Linked DNA regions of Homo sapiens: region 1 is reported to be linked to region 2. Evidence: microRNA targets listed by miRTarBase, many of them from high-throughput screens and not tested one by one. Region 2 holds a microRNA gene; the other region holds the end of a gene's coding sequence.

Region 1 (3,000 bases), not on the chromosome of region 2:
ACTCCCTGGCCTTGGTATAGATGGTGATCCCACGGCCCAGGCAAGACAGGCTTTGCTTGGGTGGACAGGCGCTGGGGGAAGTGGACGGGTGAAGGGAAGAGGAGGCAAGGTGGAGTTGGTATTGCATCCTTCCTAGCCCAGCCAAACCAAGAGCCAAGTCCCTAGGTGTTTGCAGAGAAACAGAGCAGTAGCCAAAGGGTACAGTGCACAGGGCTAAGTGGGGTGGCAGCTTGTCCAGGAGAGTCATCTTCCTTAGCCCGTCCCCCTGCAGTGATCGACATCAAGCTGGACAAACCCCAGGAGCCCCCGGCCAGCGAGGGCGGCTGCTCCTGCTAATGCAGAGCCGACCTGTGGCTTCCCATGACACTCCTTGCTTGTTGTGTTGCTTCCTATTGGCTAGCTTCCTAAGGGGGGAGGGAACCGAGTTATCAAGATGGGAGGATTTTTCTTTTCTCTCTGTCTTTAGGAGTAGGGTGGGATGGGGAGGGAGGCTGGGCATCAGGGATCACATCACTCTTAACGGCTGTTACTTAAACAACTATTTTTTGGTTTGGTTGTAATATATTGTACTTTATTAAGATTGCCAAAAACTGTTAAAATTTAAAAAAAATTTAAATCATGTGTATACAATTTTTTGCCAGATAAAAATGTAGTCATTTTTATTTGAAAGATGTGCTTTTTGTTTTTGTATATTTGTAAACTTATAGAGAACCTTTTCCACACACCTCCTCCTTCCTGTTCTCTTTGAACCATTCATCACCTCTGCCTTCCTCCTATCCCCAGCCCAATAAATTAAAACAATTAACTGAGCAAATTAATTAGGCTTCAGTCTGGGGCCATCTGGCCCCACTCTCTAGGCCCTACTCCAGTTAAATCAAACATTGGTTGAACACATCAGCCTCTGAAAAGGTAGCTCTGACTCTTGTCTTTCCATGGCCAGAGTGGGTCGTCAACCTCGTGTGGAGCTGAGACCAAGGTCTGTGGGCTCTAGGCAGCCCGGCAGCAGCCCCCAGAGGAACTGCTCCCACCTCTCCTTCTCTTTCCCTGAAAAGCCTTGAAGGGGGTTGAGGGTACAGGCAACCTTGTGTTCTCTGTGCCCTCAGGGACTGGCAGAGCAAGAGGCCATCAGAAGGACGAGGTGCTGTTGGCAATTGCAGCTGCGTGGTGCGTGGTTTATAGACTGGGGTGCCATGTGTACTTCTGAAAATATTTTAACCAGCCCACCCAGCAGTCAGTACACATGCCTGGGCCAAGTCTAAGAAACTCAGTGTGTGATGTTGGGCAGTGTGCCATCCTGAAGCCTTCCTCCTGGATGTCAGGGAAGCTGGACCACCTGGAGTTGATCCTCTGTGATGGGGAGGCGGGGGGGGGGGGGGGTGTTGTCTGCAGAACCACCACCTTGAAAGATCCATGTTCTTAGAGCCTCAGCTGCTAATATTGTTGAGTGCTTTCTGGAAAAGCTGATTTGTTGCTATGTTTTCACCCCAGTGGCATGGCGCAGTTGAAGTCTTTGTGGACATATCTTTGTGGCTACTGTGGCTGCGCTGTGGTCACCTGAGGATGTGGTTCAGGTGGGGTCTCCAGAAGGCTGCTTGCCCCCAGAGAGCCATCTCTTCCATTTTTGATTCATTCCTGAGAATGGCTTAGTCCTGAGAATCTGCAAAGTCTCTGAAGAGAACTCTCTCTTCCCACTAAGTGATATAACCTACTTGGCCAGCATTCCAAATAGACTCAGACTCACTGCCCTGAGCCTGCACAGAGCCAGGTGCAATGGGCAGTGAGTCTGGCCAAAATGTAAACCCCACCCTCCCTGCTGTCATTGGCTCTCCCTCCAGGCTGCTGCTGGGCATGTCATAGATGGGATGAATGACCATCTGGGGTATGGTGGGCTGAACTCCACAAGGTCGTTGGAATGAATTTTGAAACTTCTCAGAAATTAATCTGAAATGGCAGGCAGTAAGTGCAGCAGAATCTGGCAGGACTGATATTTGTGCAGTGGGCCTGCCACACACCCTCTGCCTAGGAGGCTGTATGCCAGAGCTCATCTCTAGCAAGGAATTTATCTTCAGGTGAAGAAGAGAGGAAGCAGGATCCCACTGAGCACCTCTTGCAGAAGGCAAGGACCAATGTTTGAACGTGTTTCAGATGTCATGTGTTTAGTTTTTATATGTGTGTACATAATTATATATAGAGATAGACTTGTGTATACACCTTCCACAAACACATCCTCACGGAGATACATGTGCTCAATGTATATTCTTGTTTCTCCTGCTCTCAAGTTGGAACTTGCATTGTGATAAGTTTTGGAAATTCAAAAGTACTGCAACGTGTTGAAATAAGAAATACTTAATATTGTCAAATAACTTGTGATTGTCTTGCCATCAATAAAATAATGCATAGTTGTGTTAAACTACAGGCAAACATAGCCCACGGGAATATCTCCACCATTTCTCTATGTACTTTATATGCACGGGTGTGCATGCCTGTGTGGGCCAGTGTCCCCCCACCATGGGCACACCCCCAAGTGGTGCTTGTTGGAAGAGTGCTTACTTACCTCGAGAGAATTTACAGGAGTCCACATGACAGTGTCCTGCCTGGTTGGCAGCGGGGGCCATCACCTGTGGCCTCTGAGACCGCCCCATTTACAGGAATCTGCACTGGGTCTCAGTGAATGAACGTATGGTAGATTTTTATTTTCTTGGCACTAAAGATTAGCTTTTTTAAAAAAACATCCCATAAAACAGTAGAAACTCAGTTCCCTTCTCAGGGGCACACACATCCAAGGCACCGTGGACTGTGTTTCCATCCTGGCCTAGAGGAGCAGTAAAAGATAGCATTTGGTTTGACATGGCCTTAGTGAGTCCTGCCTTTCCTAGCATGCACACAACATCCTCTCTTTGAGTTTGGGTTCTCCCCAGCCCCTTGGCCTCTGAGGCTGAGGGTGGCTTCCTCCCATCCTCCCATCTCAGTGGTTCCATGGCGCTCCCTTCGGCACGTGCG
Region 2 (3,798 bases):
AGGTGGGCGGATCACGAGGTCAGGAGATCGAGACCACCCTGGCTAACACGGTGAAACCCCGTCTCTACTAAAAATACAAAAAATCAGCCAGGCGTGGTGGCAAGTGCCTGTAGTCCCAGCTATTTGGGAGGCTGAGACAGGAGAATGATGTGAACCCAGGAGGCGGAGCTTGCAGTGAGCCAAGATCGTGCCACTGCACTCCAGCCTGGGTGACAGAGTGAGACTCCATCTCCAAAAAAAAAAAAAAAAAAAAAAAAGATGGAAAGATGGAGAGACAGCCAGGGACGGGACGGGCTCATGCCTGTAATCCCAGCACTTTGGGAGGTCATGGCGAACGGATCACTTGAGGCCAGGAGTTCGAGACCAACCTGGGCAACATAGTGAAACTCTGTCTCTACTAAAAAAAATTAGCCCGGGGTCTGTGATGGCGCATCCCTGTAATCCCAGCTACTCAGGAGGCCGAGGCAGGAGAATCGCTTGAATCTGGGATGCAGAGGTTGTGGTGAGCCGCCGAGATTGCATCATTGCACTCCAGCCTGGGCAACAAGAGTGAAATTCCATCTCAAAAAAAAAAAAGCCCAGCGTCGTGGCGCATGCCTGTAATTCCAGCTGCTCGAGAGGATGAGGCATGAGAATCACTTGAACCTGGAAGGCAGAGGCTGCAGTGAGCCGAGATCAAGCCACTGCACTCCAACCTGGGTGACAGAGCAAGACTCTGTCTTAAAAAAAAAAAAAAAAAAAGATGGAGAGACTCAGGTGCTGTACTGCCCAGGTTCAAACCCCAGCTTTGTGGTTTCCTACCCCCATGACCTTGGGCCACTGACTTCAGTTCTCTGCACCTGTTTCTTGTTTCTCACTCTCTTATTCAGGTATTTTTCAGGTACCTACTACATGCCAGAACTGTCTTGGGCACAGAAGGTATTTCAGTGACCAAAACAGACAAAAATTCAGTCCCAGCATTTTTTTTTTTTTTTGGGACAGAGTCTCGCTATCACCCAGGCTGGAGTGCAATGGCATGATCTCAGCTCACTGCAAGCTCCGCCTCCCGGGTTCACGTCATCCTTTTGCCTCAGCCTCCCGAGTAGCTGGGACTACAGGCGCCCACCACCACACCTGGCAAATTTTTTGTATTTTTACTAGAGATGGGGTTTCATTCACCATGTTAGCCAGGATGGTCTCCATCTCCTGACCTTGTGATCCACCCGCCTTGGCCTCCCAAAGTGCTGGGATTACAGGTGTGAGCCACTGTGTCCGGCCAAGTCCCAACTTTTTTTGAGAGGGTCTCACTCTGTCACCGAGGCTGGAGTGCAGTGACATAATCATGGCTCACTGCAGCCTCGATGCCCCAGGCTCAAGTGATCATCCTTCTTCCTTGGTAGTTGGGACTACAGGTATGCATGACATCTCGCCAATTTTTAAAGTTTTTGTAGAGGCTAGGCATGGTGGCTAACCCTTGTAATCCCAGCACTTTGGGAGGCCGAGGCGGGCAGATGACCTGAGGCCAGGAGTTCGAGACCAACCTGGGCAACATGAAGCCCTGTCTCTACAAAAAGGCTGGGTGAGGTGGCTCACGCCTGTAATCCCAGCACTTTGGGAGGCCAAGGTGGGTGGTTCATGAGGTCAGGAGATGGAGACCATCCTGGCTAACACGGTGAAACCATGTCTGTACTAAAAAAAAAAATACAAAAAAATTAGCCAGGCATGGTGGGGGGTGCCTGTAGTCCCAGTTACTCGGGACCCTGAGGCAGAAGAATGGAGTGAACCTGGGGGGTCGTGCGGAGCTTGCAGTGAGCAGAGATCACACCACTGCACTCCAGCCTGGGCGACAGAGCAAGGCACGGTCTCAAAAAAAAAAAAAAAAAAAAAAATTAGCCTGGCATCCATAGTAGCACATGCCTGTAATCCCAGCTACTCCGGAGGCTGAGGCAGGAGAATCGCTTGAAACCAGGAGACGGAGGGCGCAGTGAGCTGAGATCGTGCCATTGCACTCCAGCCTCAGCAACAAGAGTGAAACTCTGTCTCAAAAAAAAAAATTTTTTTTGTAGAGATAGGGTCTCCTCGCTGTGTTGCCAAGCTAGGTTGAGTTGTGTAACTCCTGGCCTCAAGCAATCCTCTGTCTCAGCCTCCCAAAGTACCGTGATTGTAAGGGTGAGCCACTGTGCCCAGCCCCAGCTAACTAACTGGGTTACCTGACCACCTTCTAGGTCTTTGGGGGTAAAGAAGTTGATTTGCATAAAAGTACTTGGGGAAGTACTTGGTGCACAGCAAGTATAACCTTAAAGGGGTTGCTGTGAGGACTTCACAGGGACAGACCAGGAAGTACTGTTTACAAGAAGTACCATTTTTGAGTCAGACTCACCTGGGGTGCCTACCCTGTCCCTTTCCTCTTGGGTGATCTTATGCACTTGAGGTACCCCAGGGATCCTCCTTTTTCCTCCAAGTCTCACCTGCCAGAGGTCCAGGCCCAGCACGCCAAAGTTATCATAGGCATAGATACTGGGATCGGGAGAATACTCGGGGTTGTCAATTTCTGGGTGGATCCAAGTGCCCTTGTAATCTGGGTTGTCGATCTGCCGGGGCTTCCACTCACCCTGCAGAAGGGAGAAGGAAACCGAAGGGTGAGTAAGGTTGGTGCACTCCCCACTGTGAGCCCCAGCCCTGCTCAGAGCCCCAAACTCACCTTGTACTCAGGGTTCTGAATCACTGGGGGTTCCCACTCTCCGTCCATCTCTTCATCCCAGTCCTCGGGCTTCTTAGCATCAGGGTCAGGGATATGCTCGGGCTTGTCCCAGTCCTGGGGGGTAGATGAAGAGATCAGAGTTGGCCCAGATGTCTTCCACACCCTCCAATGTGGAGAGCAGAGCCCCTGCCCAAACACCAACCTCAGGCTTGGAGTCTGTGGGATCATCGATCTTGGCCCGCTCATCCCAGTCTTCCGGTTTTGAAGCATCAGGATCCTTTATCTTCTTGGGTGGCAGGAAGTCCCAATCGTCTTCCAAGGAGCCGGACTCCACCTGGCTGTTGTCAATCTTCACCTCATAGGTGTTGTCTGGCCGCACAATCAGTGTGTACAGGTGTGTAAACTCATCATCCTGAAGAAGGAAGAAGGTGAGCGGGGGCCACCCCCCAATGAGGCTGACCTCTGAATCTCCCCATGACAGCCATTTGCCACCACCCCCAGGCACACCTTGCAACGGATGTCCTTGTTGATCAGCACGTTCTTGCCCTTGTAGTTGAAGATGACATGAACCTTCTTGGTGCCAGGGCCACAGATGTCGGGACCTAGGTGTGAAGCAGATCCAGTTAAGAGTCAGAGACTACCCATCATCTCGAGGCTCTCACCCCTCTTTATAAAAGGAAGACCTGGTTCTTCAACTCGGGTCTGTCAAGGCTGAGAAGAGAAACTCAGACCCTGATTCTGTCCTGAATGGGCTGTGGGTGGAGCCTTAAGTTTAAAGGAGAAAAAAAAAAAATCAGTGCTCTAGAACTCAAAATCCTCATTAGTAAGATTGGGAAATAACTATATACAAACACGCAAATTAAATTAACAGCCTAGATCTGCGATCATAATGCAATAAATTGTTGCTGGGACTTATTCTTTTAGCTCCCCTTCCAAAAAAAATCATTATTAAGAAAGTCAATGGGGTCTGGGTCTCCCTCTAACTAATGGGACAGAGATCAGCACCAGGAAGCAGGCCCTCACCAAACATGATGTTGTATTCTGAGTCTCCGTGCATGTCTGTCTGGTCCAAACTATTAGGAAACAGCTTCACATAGCCGCCCCCACAGTCGATGTTC

What was found. Region 2 holds the annotated microRNA hsa-miR-6515-5p (UUGGAGGGUGUGGAAGACAUC, at 2,829-2,849, opposite strand). A microRNA usually pairs through its seed, bases 2 to 8, with sites in the 3' UTR of a target mRNA and lowers its output. Matches are read on the target gene's strand: a 7mer-m8 pairs with bases 2 to 8, a 7mer-A1 pairs with bases 2 to 7 and ends in A, and an 8mer does both.
Region 1: miRTarBase lists RAB6B as a target of hsa-miR-6515-5p. Seed matches in the 3' UTR shown: 7mer-m8 at 1,828-1,834.

What each region holds. Positions count from the first base shown.
Region 1 is chr3:133,826,124-133,829,123 of GRCh38, reverse strand. RAB6B (RAB6B, member RAS oncogene family) reads left to right here. Exons shown (of 8, transcript NM_016577.4): 8 at 272-3,000. The coding sequence ends at 336. It also overlaps a transcript of SRPRB not described here. Among named protein-coding and RNA genes, the nearest start is that of SRPRB, 22 kb to the right of the region's middle.
Region 2 is chr19:12,939,537-12,943,334 of GRCh38, reverse strand. It overlaps MIR6515 (microRNA 6515), which reads right to left and starts at 2,851; the gene lies at 2,795-2,851. CALR (calreticulin) reads right to left here. Exons shown (of 9, transcript NM_004343.4): 3 at 3,704-3,798; 4 at 3,188-3,282; 5 at 2,883-3,092; 6 at 2,681-2,794; 7 at 2,448-2,591. RefSeq lists enhancers at 2,279-2,906, 2,243-3,442, 3,679-3,798.